Homo sapiens: one gene and its partners. The gene in region 3 interacts genetically with the main gene of each other region. Each region holds a gene or a part of one and is shown on either strand. Other genes may lie near its edges.

Region 1 (8,204 bases), on a different chromosome or scaffold from region 3:
TCCGACTCAAAATATAAGATAAAATACAAAATAAAACAAAATATAAATGTAGGCCAGGCACAGTGGCTCACGCCTGTAATCCCAGCAGTTTCAGAGGCCGAGGCAGGAGGATCATTTGAGGCCAGGAGTTTGAGACCAACCTAGGCAACATGATGAAACCCCATCTCTACTAAAAATACAGAAATTAGCCAGGTGTGGAGGCGCGTGCCTGTAATTCCAGCTGCTCAAGAAGCTGAGGCATGAGAATTGCTTGAACCTGGAATGCAGAGGTTGCAGTGAGCCGAGATCGTGCCACTGCACTCCAGCCTGGACGACTAGAGCGAAACTCTGTCTCAAAAAATAAATAATGCCTGAAATCCCAGCACTTTGGGAGGCCGAGGTGGGCAGATCACGAAATCAGGAGATCGAGACCATCCTGGCTAACACGGTGAAACCCCGTCTCTACTAAAAAAAAAAATACAAAAATTAGCCGGGCGTGGTGGTGGGCACCTGTAGTCCCAGCTACTCTGGAGGTTGAGGTGAAGAATTACTTGAACCTGGGAGGTGGAGGTTGCAGTGAGCCGAGATCATGCCACTGCACGCCAGCCTGGGCGACAGAGTGAGATCACGTCTGGAAAAAATAAATAAATAAGGTAGCCGGGCGCGGTGGCTCACGCCTGTAATCCCAGCAGTTTGGGAGGCCGAGGCGGGCAGATCACGAAGTCAGGAGATCGAGACCATCCTGGCTAACACAGTGAAACCCCATCTCTACTAAAAAAAAAAAAAATACAAAAAATTAGGTGGGCGTGGTAGCGGGCGCCTGTAGTCCCAGCTACTCTGGAGGCTGAGGCAGGAGAGTGGCGTGAACCCGGGAGGCGGAGCTTGCAGTGAGATGGCGCCACTGCACTCCAGCCTGGGCGACAGAGCGAGACTCTGTCTCAAAAAAAAAAAAAAAAGAAAGAAAGAAGAAAGGCTAGGCGCAGTGGCTCATGCCTGTAATCCCAGCATTTTGGGAGGCCAAGGCGGGCGGATCACCTGAGGTCAGGAGTTCCAGACCAGCCTGGCCAACATGGTGAAACCCCATCTTTTCTAAAAATACAAAAAATTAGCTGGGACTGGTGGCAGGCACCTGTAGTCCCAGCTACTCAGGAGGCTGAGGCAGGAGAATCACTTGAACCAGAGAGGCGCAGGTTGCAGTGAGTGGAGAGTGTGCCACTTGCACTCCAGCCTGGGTAACAAGAGCAAAAGTCCATCTCAAAAAGAAAAAAAACAAAATAAATAAAAAGCATCTTGGGTCCCCCTCCATCTCAGTACTTTCTGTGGCTCCCTGGCTCCAACAATCCACATTCCTTCCCCTCCAGGGACTCTGCCTTCCTCCAGGTCTTGCCTTCCCATCTGAGGGAGGCCTCCCCCAGCCACCCCAACTGTCTTCTGTGCTATAGCCTATTTATCCTCCCAGAACTAAGGTGGTCACACAGCAGGTGCTCCCCACACCAAAGCCAGCGGGTGGGTTGCTGACCCCAAGCCTAGGGTGGGAGTGGCAGACCATCTTCTGGGTGCCTACGTTGGCGGGCAAAGACCCTGAGGCCTGGGAGACTGCGTACGGAGTAAGGCCAGGAGGGCAGAGAGGCTGGGAGGGGAGGGTGATGGCCTCTGTCCTTAGCCCTGTATTCCAGGACAGAGCCTGTCGGGGGAGGGCAGGCCCATCCCCAAAGGACCTAGTTCAGTGAGCACATGGCCCTGTGGTCACTTCCCACAAGCCCTGAGCACATCTGCCCAGTAAGGCAGGGGTGGGCTGTGATCGGCAAAAAAACAAGCCTGAGGAGTGATTGCCCAAGTTGCTCAGGGCATTATGGCGGAGCCATGACCCCTGCAGGGAAACCCAGGGGCGTCTGCCACCCCCAAGCTGGGCTCACTTCCTGCATCCATTTGTAGAGCCCAGGGGCTACCAATCCTGTCCTTGCAAGTCCAGGCACCAAGCCACCCCAAAGACAGAGCCCTGATTACCCAAACTCCATTGAAATCAGCTTCTCTGCTGTCCTTTTTTTTCAAGACAGGGTTTCTGCTGCTCAGGATGGAGTGCAGTGGCACTATCACGGCCCACTGTTAACTTCAACCTCCTGGGCAAGTGATCCTTCCATCTCAACTTCCCATAGTTGGGACTACAGGTGCACACCACGCCTTGTTAGGTTGTTTTTTAGAGATGGGGTCTTGCTATTTGCCCAGGCTGGTCTCAAACTGCTGGCCTCAAGTGATCTTCCCTCCTCGGCCTCCCAAAGTGCTGGGATAATGGGCACGAGCTACTGTGCCCAGCCCGTTCGCATTCTTCTGGGGTGTACTCAGGAGCTAGGATACTGCTCAAGGCCACAGGAAGGGACCCCAGGCAGCTGTGATGCCCAGACTCCCCTCCTCATGCTCATTTTGCACCAGAAACGCTTCCCCAATACCATGTTGCCCACACTTCAGCTCCACACCTGCCCTCTTGGATAAGAACCTGGGCAGAGGCCACCCTTGACAAAGTGCTCATGGAATACTTGAGAGATGTGTAAAAAGGCTTTATTTGCAGGGGAGCAGGAATTTAATCAAAAAGGCCAAATCCCATGTCATCATCTGACTCTTCAGACTCCTCCTTCTTCTCATCTTTCTTCTCCTCTGCTGTGGAACAGAGGAGAGGCATGGTGAGCACTGCCCAAGTGCCAGGCCAGTCCCCCCATGAAGACCCCACTGCAGCAACACCGTCTGAGCCCCAGCCCCTTGCCCACTCACCAGGCCACCACTTACCTGCAGCAGGGGCAGAACCAGCAGCAGGGGCTGCAGAGCCTGGGGCAGCAGAGACGGCTACAGCCCCACCAGCAGGTACACTGGCAAGCTTGCCAATACCTACAGAAAGCAGAGAGGTGAGACCAGAGCAGCTGCCCAGCCTGGGAGGCTGTTCCACAGGGAAGTTAGATGGCACCAGAGATGGCACATGGCACCCAACATATCTGGACCCACCATATGCCAGTGTCTCCCGTTCTTCCTGAACACTCCCTCCCTGAGCCACTCCTCAACGGGGACTTCTCTTCCCCACCTTTCCTATCCAGGGACTTGCCTTCTAGGAATTAGGCCCACACTGCCTGCCTGCCCAATTTCCCCACCTCCACCCTCAGAGGTCCACTGGACAGACATGTTCATAACTAGGTAGGGAATGAGTGTGCTGCCCCAGTATCCACATCTCTGGCCACAACGCTGTGTTCATGGCTTGGCCCGTTTGCTGAGCTGGCCCTGTCGTGGTCACATGCATGGAAGACAAGAACAGCTGCCCCAACAGCTCAACTTCCAAACAAGTTCCACCAGCTCAGCTGAAGCCAACAAAAAACCATCTGCCCAACAAAGAGGCAAGGAGCCTATGGACATCCCTGGCACCCTCAGTCCCTGCCCCCAACCCCCTCACAGAAAGCATGTGGTAAGGACTGCTGACGTGAACTCAGTTCTCCAGACACCAAGCTTCAGACAAATCCTGGGGAATGGCCTCAGGGCTAGGAGCAGTCAGGCTTAAGAGGCAGGGCCACCTAAACGTCTGCTGAGAACACAGGGTGCCCCCTGCTGCCCTGCTCCTGAGAGTGTCTAGAAGTGCCCATGACGTGAGCCCACTGGAGCCCTGCTCACTCCTCGGGTGAGGCTTCTAGGGTGCTCTGGTCCACAAGCGAAACCTGGCAGGCCACAGATGGACCGGCAGGGATTAGGATGGACCATGAAAACAAACGAAAGCCCGTCCACATCAACTCACCCTGGGCAATGACGTCTTCAATGTTTTTTCCATTCAGCTCACTGATAACCTGAAGCAGACAATCACAGGGCTGTTACCAGGAATGTACGATTGTATCCCCGGCCCTCTCCCTCCCAGAGTCACAGCAGGACTGGGTTCCCCACATGGGAATAGGCCCTGAAGTTTCCAGAACTGCACTGCCCAAAGGGAGCCACCAGCCTCACTTGGGAAGTGATATAAAAATAAATGGACACTAGCTTTCTTAGACTTAGGACTGACAAAAGGACACAGGGCATCTCACTACTTATGTTGACTACTCATAGGTATCTTCAACACTGGCAAAATAAACTGGCAATGAAATTGACTTTGACTTCAGGCTGGAGTGCAGTGGTAGGATCTCACTGCAGCCTTGACCTCCCGGGCTCAAGTGACTATCCCACCTCAGTCTGGGACTACAGGCATGAGCAACCAAGCCTGGCTAATTTTTTATTGTATTTTAGAGACGAGGCCTGGTTCTGTTAGACTGCAGTGGCACAATCACTACTCAGTGCAGCCTTGACCTCTAAGGCTCAAATGATTCTCCCGCATCAGCCTCATGAGTAGCTGAGACTACAGATGTGCACCACTGCCTCCAACCATTTTTTTTTTTTTTTTTTTTTGTGGAGACCGGGTCTTGCAATGTTTTCCAGACCAGTCTCGAACTTCAAGGCTCCAATAATCCACTCGCCATGGCCTCCCAAAGCCGGGTGAGCCATGCGCCAGGACTGCTTTTTTTTTTTTTTAACGCAATCTTACGCAGCTCACTGGTATTAAACTTCCAAAGCTTGTTAATCACGATTTTGCCTCGTACCCACCCTGCTTTTTTTTTTTTTTTTCCTTTTGAGACAGGGTCTCCTTCTGCCACCCAGACTGGAGTACAGTGGCACGATCCGTGCAACCTCCATCTCCCGGGTTCGAGCGATTTTCCTGCCTCAGCCTCCCAAGTAGGGGGACTACAGGCACCCACCACCACGCCCGGCTAATTTTTGTATTTTTAGTAGGGATGGGGTTTCGACATGTTTACCAGGCTGGTCTCGAACCCCTGACCTCAGGTGATCCGCCTGCCTCGTCCTCCCAAAGTACTGGGACTACAGGCGTGAGCCACCGCGCCCGACCTCCGCCCGGCTTACTTCTCTATCCAAGAAATCGCCAACTAGACTGAAACGAGCCTCTCCCCGAACCCTCCAGCATGTGGCCGGATCAGGCAGAAGAATCGCCTGTATGGGACACTGGGGCCCCACGGCGGCTGCGGGGCAAGGGCGGCCGCTACCTTGTTGAGCCGGTCGTCGTCCGCCTCGATACCCACGCTGTCCAAGATCTTCTTGATGTCCTTGGCGCTGGGGGAGGAGTTGCCCCCTAGGGCAGCCAGCAGGTAGGAGGCGACGTAGCGCATCCTGAGGCGGGCGGAGAGGACGCGACGGCGGAGTTACCCCGGCGGCCTCCTGCCGGCCCATCCCGGGGCCGCCGGGCGAGGCCGCGCGTGGCTCGGCCCGTAGGCCTCCGTCCCAAAAATACCCCGCCGCCCACCCCGCATCCCCACGGACTCCGCGTCCCCAGCCGGCACCCCGGGCCCGGTCACCACACTCACGCGGCGGCGTCTGCGGCGGAGGCGGCGGAGAAGTCTCACGCGTGCGACCTCGGTGGCGACAGGGAGGAAAAGGAAGGCGCCGACGCAAGAGGCGGGGTTAAACCGCTACCCAGAAGGCTCTGGGACCCGTGCGCGGCGCCGCATGAGGCGCCTCAGAGTGACGTCACGAGGCGCTCAGCCAATGACGACGGGGAGGGAGTCGTTGACTCCTTCCCCCTCCCCCTTCCCAGCCCCCGTCAGGCACTTTTCGCGGCAAAGGCGAAGGGCAGCAGTTCCGGAAGTGACTGCTCTTATAGCGTGGGGCGAAGGGCCACCGAAACTCGTGGGGGCGTTGGACGAAGCGAGTCCAAAGGGACGGCATCTGCCTTCGGTACCTAGCACCCCCAGCATGCCACGCGGCGCCTACAGCTCCCAACATGGAGCGCGGCCGCCACGCCCGGGACTCAACCTTTGCCAGCGAACTGCAAGTCCCATGGTGCACCGCTGCCGGAAGTGGCCTGCGCCGCGGGCCTACCCGGAACGGCGCGTGGGCCCGGGCAGAAGCTGCTGGCGGTAGGCTCGCCTTGACTCCTTGGTGGTTCCCTGGCCGCGGCGACCGGTGGTCCCACGTCCAGCCGGGCTCAGTGAGGTGAGCCAGCCGCCTCGGACTTAGCGACTGCGGCCCTATCTGGGAGGCCGCCCCCGCACTGCGGTGTCAGGGCATCCTGTCAGAGGACGAGCGCGGGCCTTGGAGGGCAGGACAATGACGTGAGGCAGCGTCGCCCGCTCACCCCTGCGAGGAGTGAGGTCTGAGTGGTCAGCCCCTGCGCTGGCCGCTTTGGCCCGGAACTGACCTCGGTGTCCATGTGGACATCAGCACCTCAGGGACCCCGCTACATTCTCGGGTCCTGGGAGGGAACAGGGTTGGCCCTGCCTCCTAAGGACTTGAGTTCTTGTGCGAGGACGCAGGAGGTGAATAGGGAGGCGATCCGAAGGACAGGGACAGAGGGAGACTTGGTCCTCTGGGCAGCCTGAGAAAGCTTGAGCTGAGAGATGAGAAGGAGCCATCCCTGCCAATATCCCGGGCGAGCACCAGGAACAGGGTCAGATGCAGGTATCTACCGTGTTAGCAGGCAGCGCCAGCTCCCGTTGGGCTCTAACAGCAGTGCAAACCCTGGGGTGTGTATACGTCAAGCACTGGAACTCGACTTCACAGTCGCCTTCTGTGGCCTCGTTATCATTACCCCCATTTTATAGATGAGGCAGTTGGGTACAGAAAGGTTTTTTTGCTCAGGGTCACACATCTGGGGTAAAGGCGGGAAACCATCTTGGGAACAATGGGACTTTTCTTATTTTGTAATTTTTGAGACTGGGCCCCATTCTGTCGCCCAGCCTGGAGTGCAGTGGCTCGATCACAGCTCGCTGCAGCCTCAACTTCCTGGGCTCAGGTGATCCTCCCACCTCAGCCTCCTAGCGGAGACCACAGGCGTGTGCCACCACACCCGGCTAAAATTTTTTGGTAGAGACAGCGTTGTCCAACATGGGCTCAAGCGATCCTCCCACCTGGGCCTCCCAAAGTGCTGGGATTACAGGCGTGAGCTACCGCGCCCGGCCCCAACTTTTTTTTTTCTTTTTTTCTGAGGAGTCCCACTGTTCCCCAGGTTGGAGTGCACTGGTGAGATCTTGGCTCACTGCAACCTCTGCCTCCTGGGTTCAAGCGATTCTCCTGCCTCAGTCTCCTGAGTAGCTGGGATTACAGGCACCCACTACCATGCCCGGCTAATTTTTGTATTTTTAGTACAGACGGGGTTTCACCATGTTGGCCAGGCTGGTCTCAAACTCCTGACTTCAAGTGATCTTCCCACTTCCGCCTCCCAAAGTGCTGGGATTACAGGCACGAGCCACTGTGCCCAGCCCCATCTCACTTTTTTTTTATTATCCCAAACAAACTCTGTACCTATTAAAGTCCCTATTCCCTGCTCCCCCACCCTTGATAAACACATTCTACTTTCTCTTCCTATGATTTTGACAACTGTAGCACCCCGTAAGACTGAAATAATACAGTATTTTGCCTTTTGTGTCTGGCTTTTTTCATTCAGTGTATTTTCAGATTTCAAGTACCTACCTAAAAGGTAGATGCTAAGACAAATTTAATATAAATACAGAGTAGTTTATGTGGGCCAGGCTTGAGGATTGCGTCCTGGGAACATAGATTCAAGTTGCCCTGAATTTACACTTTGAGGAGCAGCAGTTATAAGTGGATTCTATTTATTTATTTATTTTTGAGACTGAGTCTTGCTCTGCCGCCCAGGCTGGAGTGCAGTCGCGTGATCTTGGCTCACTGCAACCTCTGCCTCCCAGGTTCATGCCACTCTCCTGCTTCAGCCTCCCAAGTAGCTGGGACTACAGGCGCCTGCTACCGCGCCCGGCTAAGTTTTTGTGTTTTTAGTGGAGACGGGGTTTCACCGTGTTAGCCAAGATGGTCTCGATCTCCTGACCTCGTGATCTACCCTCCTCGGCCTCCCAAAGTGCTGGGATTAGAGGCGTGAGCCACCACGCCCGGCCTATTTTTTTATTTTTTTGAGACGGAGTATTGCTCTGTAGCCCAGGCTGGAGTGCAGTGGCGCAATCTCAGCTCACTGCAAGCTCCGCCTCCCGGGTTCACACCATTCTCCTGCCTCAGCCTCCCGAGTAGCTGGGACTACAGGCGCCCGCCACCACGCCCAGCTAATTTTTTAGTAGAGACAGGGTTTCACCTTGTTAGCCAGGATGGTCTCGATCTCCTGACCTGATCCACCCGCCTCGGCCTCCCAAAGTGCTGGAATTACAGATGCGAGCCACAGCGCCCAGCCTGTTTTTTTTTTTTTTTTT
Region 2 (7,752 bases), on a different chromosome or scaffold from region 3:
TTGAGAGTAAGAAAATCTGTAATTCTGTAGCATTCTAACATAATTATCTTAGTAATTCAGAATATTCCTTTTGCCTTTACATATTTTAATTGTTGTGATGTTTCATACATAGTTTTCTCTTAAAAAAAAAAAACAAAACCTTTACTCAAGTAGAAATTTTCTTTTTTTTTTTTTTTTGAGACGGAGAGTCTTGCTCTCTTGCCCAGGTGGGAGTGCAGTGGCGTGATCTTGGCTCACTGCAACCTCCGCCTGTTGGGTTCAAGTGATTCTTCTGCCTCAGCCTCCCAAGTAGCTGGGACTGTAGGCGTGCACCACGATGCCCGGCTAATTTTTGTGTTTTTAGCAGAGATGGGGTTTCGCCATGTTGGCCAGGCTGGTCTCAAACTCCTGACCTCAGGTGATCCTCCCTCGGCCTCCCAAAGTGCTGGGTTTATAGGCATGAGCCACTGTGCCCGGCCAAGTAGAAATTTTCATACCTTAAAAGTCATCCATTTTAAATGTACAGTTCAGTGAGTTTTAGTAAACTTACATAGTTGTGTAGTCATCACTGTAATCCAGTTTTAGAACTTTTCTCTCAAACTCAGAAATTCCTTTGTATCCTATTCCCACTCCAAGCCCCAGGCAACCACTGATCCATTTTCTGTCTCCATAGGTTTCTTCTCTCCTCTGCCCTCCCTCTCCCCTCCCCTCCCACCCTCTCTTCTCTTCTTTTCTTTTTTTTTTTTTTTGAGCTGGCGTCTTGCTCTGTCGCCCAGGCTGGAGTGCAGTGGTGCGATGTTGGCTCGTTGCAACCTCTGCCTCCTGGGTTCAAGCGATTCTCCTGCCTCAGCCTCCTGAGTAGCTGGGATTACAGGCGCATGCCACCACACCCGGCTAATTTTTGTAGTTTTGGTAGAGACAGGGTTTCACTATGTTGACCAGGCTGGTCTCGAACTCCTGACCTCAAGTGATCCGCCCGCCTTGGCCTTCCAAAGTGCTGGGATTACAGGCTTGAGCCACCATGCCTGGCCTGGTTTATCCTTTCTAGAAATTTCATAGAAATGGAATTTTGAAATACATAGTCCTTTGTGTCTGGCCACTTTCCCTTTGCATGTTTTGAGGTTCATCCATATTGTGTCATGTGTCAATTTGTTCCTTTGATACTGAGTAGTCCGTTGTATGTATATTGCCACGTTTTGTTTGTCTGTTCACCAGTTGACGGACATTTGAGTTGTTGTTTTTGGCTGTTATGAGTAATGTTAAGAACGTGCCATGTAAGTCTGTGTAGACATATATTTTCATTTCTTTTGGATAGATGCGTAGGAGTGGAATTGATGGGCTATATGCACTTAGCTTTCTAAGAAACTGCGAAACTCTTCCAAAGTGGCTGTGCCCACCAGCCATGTGTGAGGTTCCAGTTTCTCTACATCCTCACCTACACTCGATAATATCTGTCTTTTTTATTATAGCCATTTTAGTAGTTGAGAAGTGACCACAAAAATCATTGGATTTTGATTTGTATTTCCTTAATACCTCATGTTGATTATTTTTTCATATGCTTATTTACCATTCATGTATCTTCTTTTGTGAAAGGTCTATCCAAGGTCCCCCCCCCTTTTAAGGTGAGGTTAACTTATAAAATTAATAATTTCAGAGTAAACAATTAATTGGCATTTACTTCATTTACAGTGTTGTGTAACTACCACCTTTTTCTAGTTCTAAAACATTTTTATTATTCCAAAAGGAAACCCCATCTCTTGCTTTTAAGCCTAATATATTTCATATGTACTTTTCTATATCTTTAAAGGCTTTTTATTAACAGCCAATAAATATACCATTTTGCTTAACTAGTGGATATTTCAGTTTCCATTTTATTGTGATGAGCATCTTTGTGCAAACCTTATTCTTTAGATTGCATTTTACTGTAAATCTAATAAAACTTATCTGCCTTAGTGTGCATTTTTAATTTTATAGCCCTGTATAAGTAAGAATTAAAGATGATACAGAAAAGACTGGACAAAACAAGGTTAAAAAAAAAGGGTGCAAAATGTACCTTTAGTTGGTGACATTGTTACCATGTAGAAGTTATTGGTTAAACTATTTTTATGTTGTTGAATGTAAAAAATGTTAGCTATACAGTGTGAAACACATTTTCTGAATGTTATTTGTTATTATACAGTATTTTCCCTGAGAAGCACCTAGCAAATTCTTTTGATGGTGAAATTCTTTAAGACCTTTGTATCCCTTCTCCAGCCACCTCCCCTCCCACCCCTTGGCCAACAGGAGGGGTGTAAGGATTTGGGCTTCCCCATATTTGCTCTTCCTACAATAGTCTGTTATCGATAGACTGTATTGTCAGTTAAAATCATTTAAGCATTCTATGGCTATAATCTCTATATATTGTTAGACTTTTGAAGCAAATAATTTTTTTTTGGAGACAAGTTCTTGCTCTGTCACCCAGGCTGGAGTGCAGTGGCACAATCTTGGCTTACTGCAGCCTCAACCTTCCAGGCTGAAGTGATCCTCCCACCTCAGCCTCCCAAGCAGCTGGGACCGTAAGTGCATACCACCACACCTGACTAATTTTTTGTATTTTTTGTAGTGATGGCATTTTGCCATATTGCCCAGACTGGTCTTGAACCCCTGGGCTCAAGCAGTCTGCCCACCTCAGCCCCCTAAAGGGCTGAGAAGACAGGCGTGAGCCACTATGCCTGGTTGAATCAAATGAAAAAAAAGTATTTTTTTGATTGAGCTATAATTTACATATCATAATGTGCACCCATTTAAAGTGTACAATTTAGTGATTTTAAGTATATTCATTTAATTGGCAACCACCACCACTTCTAATTTCAGAACATTGTTTACCACCTCTAAAGGAAACCCTGTGCTCATTTAGCAGTCACTTCTTGTTTACTCTGCTCCCAGCCGCTGGTAACCACTAATCTACTTTCTGTCTGTATGGATTTTGGAGCAAATAAATCTAATGTTATTTATTTTATTAGGTGGGTATTTTCTGTAGAAAGAATTTGCAAGTAAAATGGTGGACTTACAGAATCTTTGTTTCAAAGGTTGGTTACGCTAAACTCTGAAGCAACTCTCCAACTATCAGCACTGGAAGTAGTCAAGTTTATCTGGCTAGATTTTTCTTTTATTAGTAAAATGTCAGAAGAACTGGACTTCAGAAGCATTACAATCCTAAATATAGAATGTCTTCTAAAGGTTAAAACATTCTGGAATTTAACTTTTTATTTACATGTTATGTTGATCAGTTTTCTTCTCTCATAGAAGTAAAACTATATTCTGTTTCCTGATGTAAAACCAGTGTTTATGAAATATGAATAAGTATTTAGGAAAAAAGAAGCCCTGGGATAATGAGTATCTGTTCTTTTCTTTTTTTTTTTTGATTCCCCAGACACATAGTGGATCTGTATGGCGTGTGACATGGGCCCATCCTGAATTTGGGCAGGTTTTGGCTTCCTGTTCTTTTGACCGAACAGCTGCTGTATGGGAAGAAATAGTAGGAGAATCAAATGATAAACTGCGAGGACAGAGCCACTGGGTGAGACATTTATTAGTATTCTGGGGACCGGGAAGACATGAGCAGCCAAGGAGCATTCATCCGAAGGCTACCTCAGATAATTGGTAAAATATCACCACTCCCCTCTAGTTTTACCAGTTCTAAAGTTCTTTCTTCCATGTTTTTTTCTTCCTTTTTTATTTCATTTTAACTTGGGTCTGAAGCAATACTTAGGAGCATCACTGCATTGTTTATAACTTTTATGATGAATCCAGAATATTTGCATTGTATTTGATTTTACCTATTAGTATATTTTATGATAGTAATATATGATTTTAAAGTATTCTGGCTCACTGCAGTCTCAAACTCCTGGCCCCACCTCAGCCTCCTGAGTTGCTGAGATTATAGGCATGAGCCACTGTGCCTAACTCTAAAATTCTTTTTTTTTTTTAACTTTAAACTCTTAAGGGTTAATAAAATTCTTTTTTTTTTTTTTAGACGGAGTCTCACTGTGTCACCCAGGCTGGAGTGCAGTGGCACAATCTTGGCTCACTGCAAGCTCCGCCTCCCGGGTTCACGCCATTCTCCTACCTCAGCCTCCTGAGTAGCTGGGACTACAGGCGCCCGCCACCACGCCCATCTAATTTTTTGCATTTTTAGTAGAGACGGGGTTTCACTGTGCTAGCCAGGATGGTCTCGATCTCCTGACCTCGTGATCTGCCTGTCGGCCTCCCAAAGTGCTGGGATTACAGGCGTGAGCCACCACGCCTGGCCAAGGGTTAATAAAATTCTTTAAATTTTATTTAAATTTAAATAAATTTAATGGGCCAAATTCAGGATGGGCCCATGTCACACGCCATACAGATCCACTGTGTGTCTGGGGAATCAAAAAAAAAAAAAGAAAAGAACAGATACTCATTATCCCAGGGCTTCTTTTTTCCTAAATACTTATTCATATTTCATAAACACTGGTTTTACATCAGGAAACAGAATATAGTTTTACTTCTATGAGAGAAGAAAACTGATCAACATAACATGTAAATAAAAAGTTAAATTCCAGAATGTTTTAACCTTTAGAAGACATTCTATATTTAGGATTGTAATGCTTCTGAAGTCCAGTTCTTCTGACATTTTACTAATAAAAGAAAAATCTAGCCAGATAAACTTGACTACTTCCAGTGCTGATAGTTGGAGAGTTGCTTCAGAGTTTAGCGTAACCAACCTTTGAAACAAAGATTCTGTAAGTCCACCATTTTACTTGCAAATTCTTTCTACAGAAAATACCCACCTAATAAAATAAATAACATGGCTAACATGGTGAAACCCTGTCTCTACTAAAAATACAAAAAATTAGCCCGGCATGGTGGTGGGTGCCTGTAAGTCCCAGCTACTCTGGAGGCTGAGGCAGGAGAATGGTGTGAACCCGGGAGGCGGAGCTTGCAGTGAGCCGAGATCACGCCACTGCACTCCAGCCTGGGCGACGGAGCGAGACTTGTCTCAAAAAAAAAAAAAATTCTATAAAAATTGTTTCTTTTGTTTTGTGGTTACTTTTGTTTTCTTAGGAAATATACTGTCCTCGGCCGGGTGCGGTGGCTCACGCCTATAATCCCAGCACTTTAGGAGGCCAAAATGGACAGATCACCTGAGGTCAGGAGTTTGAGACCAGCCTGACCAACATGGAGAAACTCCCCCTCTACTAAAAATACAAAAATTAGCTGAGCATGGTGGCACATGCCTGTAATCCCAGCTACTCAGGAGGCTGAGGCAGGAGAATCGCTTGAACCCGGGAGGCGGAGGTTGTGATGAGCAGAGATCGTGCCATTGCACTCCAGCCTGGGGAACAAGAGCGAGACTTCGTCTCAAAAAAAAAAAAATACACTCTCCTTTATCTACATCTGCTTTTATCGCTGTCTTTGCCTTATTGGATGTTTGAATTTGGGCAAGAACATAATATAATCTGTGTGCTGTTGAAGTTCCTCATCTATAAAGTGAAAACATTGAACTAGATTATATTTAAGACTCTTTCCAGCATTTTCATATGAAGGTATTATCATCTGCATGCTTTTTTTCCCCCTTTATGATTTGTTTTTTGTAATAGATAATCATGCACATGGTGTAAAATTCAAAAGAAACAAAAGGAAGTGTGTAGTGGGAGTGTCCTGCTATTACCCCTCACCTGCCCTCCCTAATGGCATGATACTACGTTAGAGCCAGTCACAGCTCATTGCAGTCTCAACCTCCTGGGCTCAAGTGATCCTCCCACCTTAGCCCCACAAGTAGCTGGGATCACAGGCATGCACCACAGGCTGATTTTTTTATTTTGTAGAGATGGGGTTTCACCATGTTGCCCAGGCTGGTCTTGAACTCCTGGACTGAAGCAATCCTCTCACCTCGGCCTCCCAAAGTGCTGTGATTATAGGCGTGAGCCACTACGAGGGCCATGATGCAATTTTTTATTGTGGTAAAATATGTATAACATAATATTCCTCATTTTAACTTTTTTTTTTTTTTTTTTTTTTTTTTTTTTTTTTTTTGAGACAGAGTCTTGTTCTGTCACCCAGGCTGGAGTGCAGTGGTGGGATCTCGGCTTACTGCATTCTCCGCCTCCGGGGTTCAAGCGATTTTCCTGCCTCAGTCTCCTGAGTAGCTGGGACTACAGGCATGTGCCACCATGCCTGGCTAATTTTTTTGTGTTTTTAGAAGAGACAGGGTTTCACCATGTTGGTCAGGCTGGTCACGAACTCCTGATCTCAAATGATTCTCCTGCCTTGGCCTCCTGAAGTGCTGGGATTACAGGCGTGAGCCACCATGCCTGGCCCATTTTAACTATTTGTAAATGGTATAATTCAGTAGAATTAATTACGTTCACAGTGCTGTGTACCCATCACTGTTATCTGTACTCAAAACTGTTCATCACTGCCAACATAAACTCCATATTTTTAAAGAATGCCTCCCCCTTCCTCCTCCCTCTACCCCCTATTCAACTGTCTGTCTATAAATTTGACTAGGTACTGCATGTAAGTGGAATCACAGTATTTGTCCATTTGCAACTGGCTTATTTCACTAAGTAAAATGTTTTCATGGTCTGTCCATTTTGTAGCATATATTAACTTTATTCCTTTTTATGGCTGAGTAATATTCCATTGTGTGTGTATACCACATTTTGTTTATCCATTCATTTGTAGATGGACCCTTGGGTTGTTTCTACTTCGTGGCTATTGTGAATACTGCTACTATGAGCATTGTTGTACAGATAAATGTTTGAGACCGTGCTTTCGATTCTTTTGGAAATATACCTAGGAGTAGAATTGCTGGCTCATATGGTAGTTCTATGTTTCACGTTTTTAGGAACTGTCAGACTTTTCCATAGCAGCTACACCATTTTACATTCCTACCAGCAATGCTCAAGGGTTCCAGTTTTTCCAAATCTTCATCAGCACTTGTTGTGGTGCTATTTATTGTAGCCATCCTAGTGACTGTGTTGTGAAGTGGCATCTCCATTGTGGTTCTGATTTGCATTTCTCTAATAATTACTGATGTTGACCTTATTTTCATGTGCTTATTGGTCAATTGTATGTCTTCCTGGGGAAAATACTATTCATATCCTTTGCCCATTTTTTTAAATTGGGTTTTTTGTTGTTATAGGAGTTCTTTATATATTCTGGATATTAATCCCTTATCTGTTATAGGTTGAGTATTCCTTATCCATAATGCTAGGATCCAGAAATGTTTTGGATTTTGGATTTTGGATTTTGCAATATTTGCATTTATACTTACCAGTTAAGCATTCGCCTACTTATTTATTTACTTAATAGAGTTGCCCAGGCTGGTCTTGAACTCCTGGGTTCAAGCGATCCTCCACCTTGGCCCCCCAGAGTGCTGGGATTACAGGTGTGAGCCACCGTGGCCAGCCCCAGTTAAGCATTCTAAATCCAAAAACTTGAAATTCGGTATGCTTCAATAAGCATTTTCTTTGAGCATCATGCCAGTGCTCAAAAAGTTTTGGAGTTTGGAGCATTTCAGATTTCAGATTTTTGGATTTGATATGCACAACCTGTAAATGATTTGCAAATATTTTCTCCCGTTCTGTGGGTTGCCTTTTTCACTCTTGATGGTTTCCTTTGATGCACGAAATTTTAAAATTTTGAAGTCTAGTTTATCTAAATTTTTTTCTTTTGTTTCCCATGCTTTTGGTGTTATATCCAGGAAAGCATTGCCAAATCCAGTGTCATGAAGACTTTCCCCAATGTTTTCTT
Region 3 (8,203 bases):
AGTGTTGGCGCGTGCCTGTAATACCAGCACTTTGAGTCGCCGAGATGAGTGAATCACTTGAGTCCTGGAGTTCCAGACCAGCCTGGGCAACATGGTGAAACTCTGTCTCTACTAAAAACACAAAAATTAGCTGGGCATGGTGGTGCGTGCCTGTAATCCCAGCTATTCAGGAGGCAGAGGCACGAGAATCACTTGAGGTGGAGGTTGCAGTGAGCCCACATCGCATGACTGCACTCCAGCCTGGGCGACAGAGCGAGACTCTGTCTCAAAAACAAAACAAAACAAAACAAAACAAAAACATCTCCTGCTATTCCTCTTTCAAGTTTCTGTATTAAATTTAACTGGAAAGTATCCAGACATTCCAAGATGAGGTGTTTTACCATTTTTAAAAATTATTTACTATTTTTTTCTTTTTAAGCTATGCTATTAACTGAAATTTACTATTATTTAGCTATATTAGAATTGTTCTCAATACTGTGCAACCAAAACAAATAAGTAGACTCTTGAGGCTGAAGACAGCAACTGTTATCCATAAATCCCAATTTTGCATATGTATCAAAATTGCTTCATTTTACTTATTCCCTATTTTTATTTACAGAGTAAATGTTACAAATCTGAAACTTTAACATACACTGCTAATAAAATGCCATTTTAATTATTTTACATTGAAGTTCCATGAGATTTTTATTATATTTATTATTTATTTTTAAAATTGAACTTCACCCTTTTGTAACAAAAAATTAAAAATTTTTGTTGACTCTGTTTGAACACAACAGACTAGGAACTCTTCCCTAGACAGTGTTAGAGAATTGGCAAGAAATGTCACCAGCAACTTTTAGAACTTTCCGGTGGTCCACACTCGGCCAAATCATCTTCAAAAAGGAGGCTCAAATCAGGCCCGGTCCTGACCCCCAGGCACAGACCCAGGGGACCGCCTCCGAGACATCATGTTTCTTGCCAATCCGGGTCAACTTCCTGATGGTCTATCGCATGTGGGAGCAAAGGGACTTAACAGTCACTCTTCCACAGTTTAATTGTTTTGTCATTTTCTAGCGCGGCAGAGGTGATGATGTTTTCTGTTGGGTGACAAGCTGTTGAGGTCACAACATCTGTGTGGCCTTCTAATTTCTGTACAATCTCTTTCGTCTGAAGTTTCCAGATGTAAAGAAGGTTATCCTCCGAGCCAGACACAATCCACTTCCCGCCAGTAACAGAGAAATTAGCAAATATGCAGTATTTCTCGTTCTTGTGGCCAGTGTATGTCTTCAGGCACTTCCCCTTGCTGTAGTCCCAGAGCTTGAGTGTTGCCCAGCGTGGCAGCCACGATGTATCCACCCTTCGGGGAGAGCTTCACGAAAGACACCAGGGGTTGTCATCATCAGTGAGCGTTTTCAGGCACTGGCCTGAGGCTGTGTCCCAGATGTGACAGAGACCATCATAGCTACTTGAAACTATCAAGAATCCATCACGATTAAAATGAATGGCCGAGACTGGATCGGAGTGAGCTAGCAGTCTTGTGGCACTTCCCTGTTTTCACAACCCATATCCTCACACTTTCATCAAAGGATCCTGAGACAGTAAGGCTGGACTGGGGATTGAAGTTACAGCAAAAGACATAATTACTGTGTCCCTTCAGGGTTTTCAGACACTTTCCCGAGCTCACGTCCCGTATCTTCAAGGTTTTGTCATCTGAGGCGGAAACAAAAAGGTTAGAATCTGACGACCAGGCTGTGACCAGACGGTTTTCTCAAATTTCCCATCATATGAGTCCCCCAAATTTTAATGAGTTTATCAGCAGATGAACTTGCCAGCCACTCTCCATTCGGGCTGAATTTCACGGAGGACACTGCTTTGGTGTGGCCAGCAAGGGTGAACTTTAGAGAGCATAGTTTGGCTTCACGGGCGTAGGCTTGCTCTGAGTGGTGGATGACGAAGGGGTCGGCTGTGCTCTCGTTGCCTCGGTCTCGGGCTTCCTCTCCTCCATCGCCATGGCTCTGACGCTGGCCGCACAGGGGACGTGGACGGAGGGTCCTGATGACAGAGGCAGTCTGCCGGGCTGCTGCGGAGGGCCGGGCGCTCGGGGCGTCGGCGCATCCTCCCTGGGCGGGAGCGCGGCCTATTCATTTATTTTTTTTGAGACAACAGTCTCACTGTGTTGCCCATGCTGGAGTGCAGTGGTGCATTTTCGGCTCACCGCAACCTCTGCTTCCTGGATTCAAGCGATTCTTGTGCCTCAGCCTCCTCAGTGCCACAGGCACGTGCCACCACACCCAGCTAATTTTTTATATTTTTAGTAGAGATGGGGTTTTGCCATGTTGGCCAGGCTGGTGTCAATTCCTGATATCAGGTGATCCGCCCGCAACGGCCTCCCAAAGTGTTGAGATTATAGGCGTGAGCCACCGCGCCGGCTGAGAATTTTATTTCACCAAATGAGTCTCCTGCTAACAAATGTTTACCTGCCATTGGCCTACACTGTGCAAAGGGCCTAACTATTAGATAATATCTAGAAATGTCACAAAATTAGCCTGAAAAGTAATCCATTTTTTTCCTGTAAAATAAGTTAAGGTAGCTTGAGATGTTTCTATTTTAAGTTGGTAGGGTTAGGCCCGGTGGTGGCTCACAAATCCCAACATTTTGGGAGGCCAAGGCGGTCAGATCGTTTGAGGCCTAGAGTTTGAGACCAGCCTGGCCAACACGGCAAAACCCCATCTCTACTAAAAATACAAAAATTAGCTGGGCGTGATGGTGTGCGCCTGTAATCCCAGCTACTTGGGAGGCTGACGCAGGAGGATCACTTGAACCCAGGAGGCAGAGGTTGCAGTGAGTTGAGATCGCGCCACTGCACTCTAGCCTGACAGAGTGAGACTGTCTCAAAACAAAAGAAAGTTGGTAGGGTTAAATTTGCATCCCAAAATTTACTAGCATCTATAAAGACATACATTACTTTTTTTTTTTTTTTTTTTTGAGGAGTTTCACTCGTTGTCCAGGCTGGAGTGCAATGGTGTGATCTCAGCTCACTGCAACCTCTGCCTCCCAGGTTCAAGGATTCTCCTGTCTCAGCCTCCTGAGTAGCTGGGATTACAGACATGCGCCACCACACTTGGCTAATTTTTTAATTTTTAGTAGAGACAGTGTTTCACCATGTTGTTCAGGCTGGTCTCAAACTCCTGACCTCAGGTGATCCACCTGCCTCGGCCTCCCAAAACGTTGGAATTACAGGCATTAAGCCACCATGCCCGGCCCATGCATTACTTAAAAAAATTTTTTTTGAGACACGGTCTCTGTCACCCAGGCTGGAGTACAGTGATGTGATCTCAGCTCACTGCAACCTCTGCCTGTCAGGTTCAAGTGATTCTCCTGCCTCAGCCTCCCAAATAGCTGAGATTACAAGCATGTGCCACCACACCCAGCTAATTTTTTGTATTTTTGGTAGAGATGGGGGTCTGACTGTGTTGCCCAGGCTAGTCTCAAACTCCTGAGCTCAACTGATTCACCCGCCTCAGCCTCCCAAGGTGGTGGGATTACAGGCGTGAGCCACCACACCTGGCAAGGATGTGCATTACTTTTATAATACTGGCTCGTTATAAGAATTCAAAACAGAATTGGCTATCCACTTTACATATTTTACAACATGGCCACCTAAAAGTGTCCTTTTAGATATGCAGAAAAAGTAGAAAGGCAGGATTCAGTCAAAAGATGAATCTGAGTTATTAGTATTTTGGAAGGAAATTCCTTTCTCAGGCCTTTACCATCATATAATACAACCAATGTGAGAAATGAAAGGAATAGGGCATGTGGATTTAGCAAGCTACTATACAAATAAGGGTTAATATTTCTAGGTTCTATTTCCATGTCTTAGGCAGCATTATGGCCTTGGTGTTTTCAGAGGGACTAAATGTAATCAGCATAAAACTATTTTGCAGGTTCTGAAGTAGTCACACCAATGTAAAAAATCAACATTTACTTTTTTTTTGAGACAGTCTCACTCTGTTGCCCGGGCTGGAGTGCAGTGGCACGATATCGCCTCACTGCAATCTCTGCTTCACAGGCTCAAGTAATTCTCGTGCCTCAGCCTCCCAAGTAGCTGGGATTACAGGCACCTGCCAACACACCTAGCTAATTTTTTTATTTTTAGTAGCAATGGAGTTTCACCAGGTTGGCCAGGCTGTTCTCAAACTCCCGACCTCAGGTGATCTGCCCACCTCGGCCTCTCAGAGTGCTGGAATTACAGGCATGAGCCACCACATCTGGCCAACATTCACTCTTAAGCCTTTCTAAATTATTCCAATATTACAAGGACAAATGCTAATCTGATGAGTTTCAATCTACGTTGAATGAATGCTAAAGTTGAATGAAATGCTAAACTGATGAGTTTCAATCTATGTTGACTGTTTCATCACAGTAACATAAATGAAGTTTTTATTTTTCATAAATGAAATGTAATGATGTTAACAGTGGATTGGAAAATCTTCTGGAAGTTTTTGGGTTTTTTTTTCAAGACAGAGTCTGGAGAGCAGTTGTAGCGCCCAGGCTGGAGAGCAGTGGCACCACCTCAGCTCATTGCAACCTCTGCTTTCCAGGTTCAAGTGATCCTCTCACCTCAGCCTGAGTAGCTGGGACTACGGGTGCGTGCCACCACGTCTGGCTAATTTTTTGTAGAGATAAGGTCTCATCATGTTGCCCAGGCTGGTCTCGAACTCCTGGGTTCAAGTGATCCACCCGCCCTGGCCTCCCAAAATGTTGGGATTATAGGTGTGAGCCACCATGCCATGTTTTTAATGCATTTTAAAATTATGTTAAAAGAAAATTCTTACAAAGATATTTTAAGATTACATCACAGCAAGCAACTGTTTAATTGGGACAAAGAAGATACACTAAAAGCCAAATGAATTACTGTAATTAAATTTGTACAGTTTATTGACTTTTTTTTCCTTTTTATTTATTTGAGATGGAGTTTTGCTCTTGTCACCCAGGCTGGAGGGCAATGGAGCGATCTTGGCTCACTGCAACCTCCCCCTCCCAGGTTCAAGTGATTCTCCTGCCTTAGCCTCCCGAGTAGCTGGGATTACAGGCACCCACTACCACGCCTGACTAATTTTTGTGTTTTTAGTGGAGACAGGATTTCACCATGTTGGCCAGGCTGGTCTCGAACTCCTGACCTCAGGTGATCCACCCGCCTTGGCCTCCTAAAGTGCTGGGATTACAGGCGTGAGCCACTATGCCTGGCTATTGACATTTTTTTTTTTAAGCAAAGAGGTGGGGCACATCCACTGCAGTCCAGGCATTCTGGCACCACCTCTGTTATTAACTGGAATCAAATTTTAAAAATTTCTGTGATCTTGAAGGTCTTGTTGAAGTTTTAGAGGTCTTTTGTTTTTCTTTTAGCCACTAGATTTTTCAGGAAAAATTCACCTATTTAGGAAAAAGGAAAACACATTAATATCAATTTAAAGTAAATAACAGTGAGACAACTATTTCAGAATTATATTTTTGGTGTTCCCCCTTTAAAGAAGACTTTTGTATTTATTGGCACTTCTCTCTTCTCAAACCTCAATGGCAATATTTTTCTAACCTAAATATCCCCTATTATCTTTGGCCTTTCTCCCCAGCAATAATGACTAGAGTCTCCTACTATTATTCTTTCTAGTAAGCCAATATTACAAAGGGTGACCCTACTGTATATATGGGTCTGCACATTAATTCTACTTTATGTGCACTATCTATCCCTCATCACTGTCAAAGTATTGCTCTTGGCAAAATTCATTTCCAAGAGCAATTTTGCTACATTATTAGGCTGGATCTGATGTTTATAAAACAGATCTCGTTGCAGCTGAGCAGACGCATCTGATGGAATCTCTTTAGCTTATTCCCCTCTAGGGAAGCAAGAGCTCTTCATTTGTAATGGGCTTTCTCCCCACCGCCTGAGTTGTGCCTACGCAATAAGTTAGCAGCTTAGAGGGCACATTCTCTTTTTAGGCCATTAGTGTTCCATTTAGTCTATTGCTCTTACAGCATGACTCAATGCTTATTGGTAGAGTGCAGCACTAGAGGCCTGATTTTATGAGGAGTCTGATTAACTTCTCTTTGTCATCTTACATATGAGTAGAACTGTGATGAGTCTATCTACATATAATCTCTGCAAATCCCAAGGCTCATAACCCAGCCAAGTAATCCATGCTGCTCCATACCTCCTCCAAATGTCGTGGGAGTAGCACCAACTTTATCAGACCCTAATCCATCATTTTAGTCTAATGCTCATCATATACCAGAATCTGATCTTTTCCTGGTAATTTAGAAAGCATCAGAAAGTTCATAATTTACTTCCTTTTATGTTAGAAATTTTTCTTTAGCAAAAGAAAAACTCCTTTCAAAGGACATTACTCTAACCATTCTAGAAGCTGATAGTGGTTCTATCCTTCACATGTATTTTTAGCTTGCCAGCAGTGCTGCTTGAAGACTAAATCACTTACAATTACTGGTTTTCAAAGTCCCCACATTCTGTCACTCAGTGCTGAATCAAATTCTTGGGTTTTCAAACTATGATGAGCTACTAGTTCATTAAAATGTTTTAAATTACTATTTTTATTTATTTATTTTTGAGACGGGGTCTCATTCTGTCACCCAGGCTGGAGTGCAGTGGCACGATCACAGCTCACTGCAGCCTCAACCTCCTGGGCTCAGGTGATCCTCCCACCTCAACCTCCTGGGTAGCTAGAACTAGAGGTGCCCACCACCACCCAGCAACTCAGCCACCCAGCTAATTTTTGTATTTTTGTAGAGATGGGGTTTTGCCATGTTGCCCAGGCTGGTCTTGAACTCCTGGGCTCAAGTGATCCACCCGCCTCGGCCTCCCAAAGTGCTAGGAGTACAGGCGTGAGCCACTGCACCCGGCCTTAAATGTCTTTATAGGAACTAGGAACATACAGAATATTACTAATACTGGAGCATTAATTTTTTCAAATAGAATTTGTCTAATTTAAACATATTTAAGATTTAGACCCCAATATATAAAGCAATCATTTAAAACATCACCACTTTAGATAAAAAAAAAAAATACCTAGTTTATTTATTTATTTACTTATTTATTTATTTTTGAGACAGAGTCTTGCTCTGTTGCCCAGACTGGAGTGCAGTGGCATGATCTTGGCTCACCACAACCTCTGTCTCTCGGGTTCAAGCAATTTTCCTGCCTCAGCCTCCCAAGTAGCTGGGACTACAGGCACACACCACCATGCCCGGCTAATTTTTGTATATATATTTTTTCTTTTGGAGACAGAGTGTTGCTCTTTCGCCAGGCTGGAGTGGAGTGGCAGGATCTTGGCTCACTGCAACCTCTGCCTCCCAGGTTCAAGCTATTCTCTTGCCTCAGCCTCCCGAGTAGCTGGGACTACAGGTGCGCAGCACCATGCCCAGCTAATTTTTGTATTTTTAGTAGAGATGGGGTTTCACCATGTTGGCCAGGATGATCTCAATCTCTTGACCTTGTGATCTGCCCACCTCGGCCTCCCAAAGTGTTGGGATTTCAGGCATTAGCCACCACGCCTGGCCAATACCTAGTTTATTTTTAAAGAGACAAGGTCAGCCGGGTGCGGTGGCTCACACCTGTAATCCCAGCACTTTGGGAGGCCCAGGTGGGCGGATCACAAGGTCAGGAGATCGAGGTCATCCTGGCTAACACGGTGAAACCCCGTCTCTACTAAAAATACAAAAAATTAGCCAGGCGTGGTGGCGGGCACCTGTAGTCCCAGCTACTCAGGAGGCTGAGGCAGGAGAATGCCGTGAACCTGAGAGGCAGAGGTTGCAGTGAGTCAAGATTGTGCCACTGCACTCCAGCCTGGGCGATGGAGAGAGACTGCATCTAAAAAAAAAATAATAATAATAAAATAAAAAATAAAGAGATGAGATCTCACAATGTTGCTCAGGCTGTATTTGAACTCCTGGGCCCATGCGATCCTCCTGCCTCGGTCTCCCAAGAAGTTGGGACTATAGGCACACACCACCACACCTGGCCTAGCTGTTTCTTTTTTTTATTTTATTTTTGAGACACAGTGTCTTGCTCTGTCACCCAGGCTGGAGCTGTAGTGACACGATCATAGCTCACTGCATCCTTGAACTCCTAGGCTCAAGTAATCCAACTGCCTTCCAAAGTGCTGGGATTACAGGCATGAGCCACCTTGCCTGGCCTATTTATTCTTTTTTTTTT
Region 4 (3,500 bases), on a different chromosome or scaffold from region 3:
GTCTTGCTCTGTTGCCCAGGCTGGAGTGCACTGGCATGATCTCGGCTCACTGCAACCTCCGCCTCCCAGGTTCCAGCTATTCTCCTGCCTCTGCCTCCCAAGTAGCTGGGACTACAGGTGCGTGCCACCATGCTTGGCTAATTTTTCTATTTTTTTTAAGTAGTGACGGGGTTTTACCATGTTGCCCAGGCTGGTCTCAAACTCCTGACCTCAGGTGATCCATCCATCTCAGCCTCCCAAAGTGCTGGGATTACAGGTGTGAGCCACCAAGCCCGGCCAAAACCCAAATCTAATCACTACTCTTGGCCTTATTTCAATTGACCAGGTGTGATGGCTTACGCCTGTAATCCAAGCACTTTGGGAGGCTGAAGTGGAAGGATCACTTGAGCCCAGGAGTTCAAGACTAGCCTAGTCAACATAGCAAGACCCCCATCTCCATTAAAAATTTAAAAATTAACCAGATGTGGTGGCGCATGCCTGTAGTCCCTGCTACTCGAGAGGCTGAAGCAGAAGGATCACTTGAGCCCAGGAGGTGGAGACTGCAGTGAACCGTGTTTGCACCATTGCACTCCAGTTTCAGCAACAGAGCGAAAACACGTCTCAAAGAAAAAAAAAAAAAACTTTTAAGTGGCTTCTCACTGCTCTAAAACTCTTTAGCATCCCTTACAGGGCCCGGATGCCGTGGCCTCTGCTTCTCTCTGTTTTGCCTTCTCCACTCCAGCCACAATGACCACTTCCAGTTCCTCATCTATACTGGGCACCCTCCTACCCTAGGGCCTGTTGCTTCTGCCTGAAACCCTCCTCTCCTCCGCCCCATTTAAGTTAACCCCTCCTTCTTCAGATCTGAAGGCAATCATCACTTCCTCAGAGAAGCCTTTTTAAGCTATCTATTAGTAGTGGCTATTTCTTTTGTAGGACTAATCACAGTTATAACTTTACTGTTCTATGTGACATTAATTGATCAATATCAGCCTCCCTCATTAGACTGGAAGTTCTGCAGGAGAAATCATGTCTACTTTTTGCTTCCCTCACATCCTCAGCTCACAGAAAAGTACTTATAGTTTAAAAGGAACTTGGTATTTACTAAATGAGCAAACAGTAATGAGAAAAGATGTTTAAAGCAGTAATATAGAATTTGTGGTGAGGGGACCGTCAGCTTGGAGATATGTTCACAGCATTAGGACTGGGTTGTAGGGATAAGAGAAACTCAGGAGTTGCAGTCAGTGGGCTCAGCTGCCCAATTTTAGACGTCAGGGCAGCATGAAGATCTGGAGTGAGGGCAGCGTGCTACTGACTTTGCGTGACCTTGAACAAATGACTTCATTCCTCTGAGCCTCAATTTCCTCATCTGTACGTGGAGATAATATTAGTACTGGTGGTTGTGGGGATCAAGTTAAATGAGATAAAGCACGTAAAAGCATGTATTCTAGGCCAGGTTTGGTGTCTTATGCCTATAATCCCATTACTTTGGGAGGCTGAGATGGGCAGATTACCTGAGGTCAGGAGTTCAAGACCACCCTGACCAACATGGCAAAACCCTGTCTCTACTAAAAATACAAAATTAGCCGGGCATGGTGGCACACACCTATAATCCCAGCAACTTCAGAGGCTGAGGCAGGAGAATTGCTTGAACTCAGGAGGTGGAGGTTGCAGTGAGCCGAGATCGCACCATTGCACTACAGCCTGGGCAACAAGAGCGAAACTGTCTCAAAAAAAAAAAAAAAAAAAAAAAAAAAAACACTTATTCTAGCCCTATAGTAAACATTTGACTTTGAGCAGCTCACTGACCTTAATTTAGATTAATTCCTAAATTTTCTCCTGTAAGGTATCTGCTATGGCCCAGGTAAAATTAATGTTCAAGGGCATAGAGCTAGTTAATTTTAGGGTCAGGGCTTAAGAACCTCCAGGTTCCTAGTCTGTTGTTCTTTTGTGGACACCACACTGCTACCTGAGAGATGAGTTTCAAACACCGGACTGGGAGTCAAGTGACTTGGATTCTGTTCCCAGCTCTTCCACTCATCACCCATGGGACAATTCCCCCAATACCTGTCATTTCCTGCCTTACGGATATAATGTATTTGACAGTGCTTCGAAAGACGACACCATATAAATAACTGACACTATTTATATCTGGAAAATGAGATTACTGGAAAATTCCTCATTTTCTAACAAGGAAACGAGAAATATGAGATAGCTGCTGCTTTATTTTGTTTGGCATCTTCTCCCTTATGACACAACATGATGTAAATGTTTTCATTTTCCTGAGAGGCTATACAGTTTGCAAGTGGTTGCCGGAAACACTCAGTAATGCTTTACTGATAGGTGTTCCCAGCATGTTAATGTTCTCCTTGCTGAAATGTCGAAGACCCAAACTGTTTCGTGGAGATAATCAAAGTATATCTTTGTCTTTTTTTTTTTTTTTTTTTTTTTTACTGATTCTATAGCCATTTTATAAGCCTTGGTGATTGCTCCTTAGACCTTTCATGGTTGGAAAAACAGTGTTATTAGGGTAAACCAGAGTTGTGCTAAACAGCAGCTGCCATCATGGTACACACAGAGACAAAGGTTATGAAGCCTTACCCTTGAATACAAACTTCCTCCTTTGTTGTGTTCAAACCAGCATGATTACAAAGTTTAAGTATTGTCTTCATATTATGAGTCTATTTCAATGGAAAAATTAACAGAATGGTTTTCTTTTTCAGCTAAACAGAAAGAATTTACTGACAATGTGAGCAGTGCTTTTGAACAAGGTACTTTCTTTTCTTCACTTTCTTAAATATGGAAAGAAATTTCAAGCACTGAAGCATAGCCATTCATTCAATAACTAGCTATTATATACCTTCCTATGATAGCTATATAGGGAGATATGAAATACTTATGAGTCTACATTTCTGTCTTTAAAAAAATGCCTTTAAGAATCTACATTTCTGGCCAGGCACGGTGGCTAATGCCTGTAATCCCAACACTGGGAGGCTAAGGCGGGCGGATCACGAAGTCAGGAGATTGAGACCATCCTGGCTAACACGGTGAAACTCTGTCTCTACTAAAAATACAAAATTAACTGGGTGTGGTGGCACAACGCCTGTAGTCCCAGCTACTTGGGAGGCTGAGGCAGGAGAATCGCTTGAACCAGGGAGGCGGAAGTTGGAGTGAGCTGAGATCGTGCCACTGCACGCCAGCCTGAGTGACAGAGCGAGACTCCATCTCAAAAAAAAAAAAAAAATCAACATTTCTGCCTTTCTAGAGAAACAAACTATATCAAAAAAGTGATCTGGGAACAGTGACTCACGCCTGTTATCCCAACACTTTGGGAGGGTGAGGTGGGCAGATCACTTGAGGTTAGGGGTTTGAGACCAGCCTGGCCAACATGGTGAAACTCCAGCTCTACTAAAAATACAAAAATTAACTGAGTGTGGTGGCATGTGCCTACAGTCCCAGCTACTCAAGAGGCTGAGGCCAGGAGAATTGCTTGAACCAGGGAGGCTGAGGTTGCAGTGAGC

What was found.
Region 1: changes in LIAS (region 3) and RPLP2 together harm fitness less than expected from each alone (positive genetic interaction), as found in Homo sapiens cells (one large-scale study listed by BioGRID).
Region 2: changes in LIAS (region 3) and SEH1L together harm fitness less than expected from each alone (positive genetic interaction), as found in Homo sapiens cells (one large-scale study listed by BioGRID).
Region 4: changes in LIAS (region 3) and HSCB together harm fitness more than expected from each alone (negative genetic interaction), as found in Homo sapiens cells (one large-scale study listed by BioGRID).

The regions. Positions count from the first base shown.
Region 1 is NC_000011.10:807,190-815,393, reverse strand, and holds RPLP2 (large ribosomal subunit protein P2), read right to left. Parts: upstream 5,428-8,204; 5' UTR 5,355-5,427; intron 5,161-5,354; 5' UTR 5,160-5,160; coding exon 5,037-5,159; intron 3,798-5,036; coding exon 3,749-3,797; intron 3,714-3,748; exon of another isoform or gene 3,580-3,713; intron 2,860-3,579; coding exon 2,761-2,859; intron 2,635-2,760; coding exon 2,558-2,634; 3' UTR 2,518-2,557; downstream 1-2,517. Other genes in the region: PIDD1 (p53-induced death domain-containing protein 1), read left to right, coding at 6,442-6,447. UniProt on the Homo sapiens protein: Plays an important role in the elongation step of protein synthesis.
Region 2 is NC_000018.10:12,952,072-12,959,823, forward strand, and holds part of SEH1L (nucleoporin SEH1), read left to right. Parts: intron 1-3,391; coding exon 3,392-3,538; intron 3,539-7,752. UniProt on the Homo sapiens protein: Component of the Nup107-160 subcomplex of the nuclear pore complex (NPC). The Nup107-160 subcomplex is required for the assembly of a functional NPC.
Region 3 is NC_000004.12:39,474,272-39,482,474, reverse strand, and holds the end of LIAS (lipoyl synthase, mitochondrial isoform 1 precursor), read right to left. Parts: intron 5,413-8,203; coding exon 5,360-5,412; 3' UTR 2,969-5,359; downstream 1-2,968. UniProt on the Homo sapiens protein: Catalyzes the radical-mediated insertion of two sulfur atoms into the C-6 and C-8 positions of the octanoyl moiety bound to the lipoyl domains of lipoate-dependent enzymes, thereby converting the octanoylated domains into lipoylated derivatives.
Region 4 is NC_000022.11:28,748,539-28,752,038, forward strand, and holds part of HSCB (iron-sulfur cluster co-chaperone protein HscB isoform 1 precursor), read left to right. Parts: intron 1-2,702; coding exon 2,703-2,750; intron 2,751-3,500.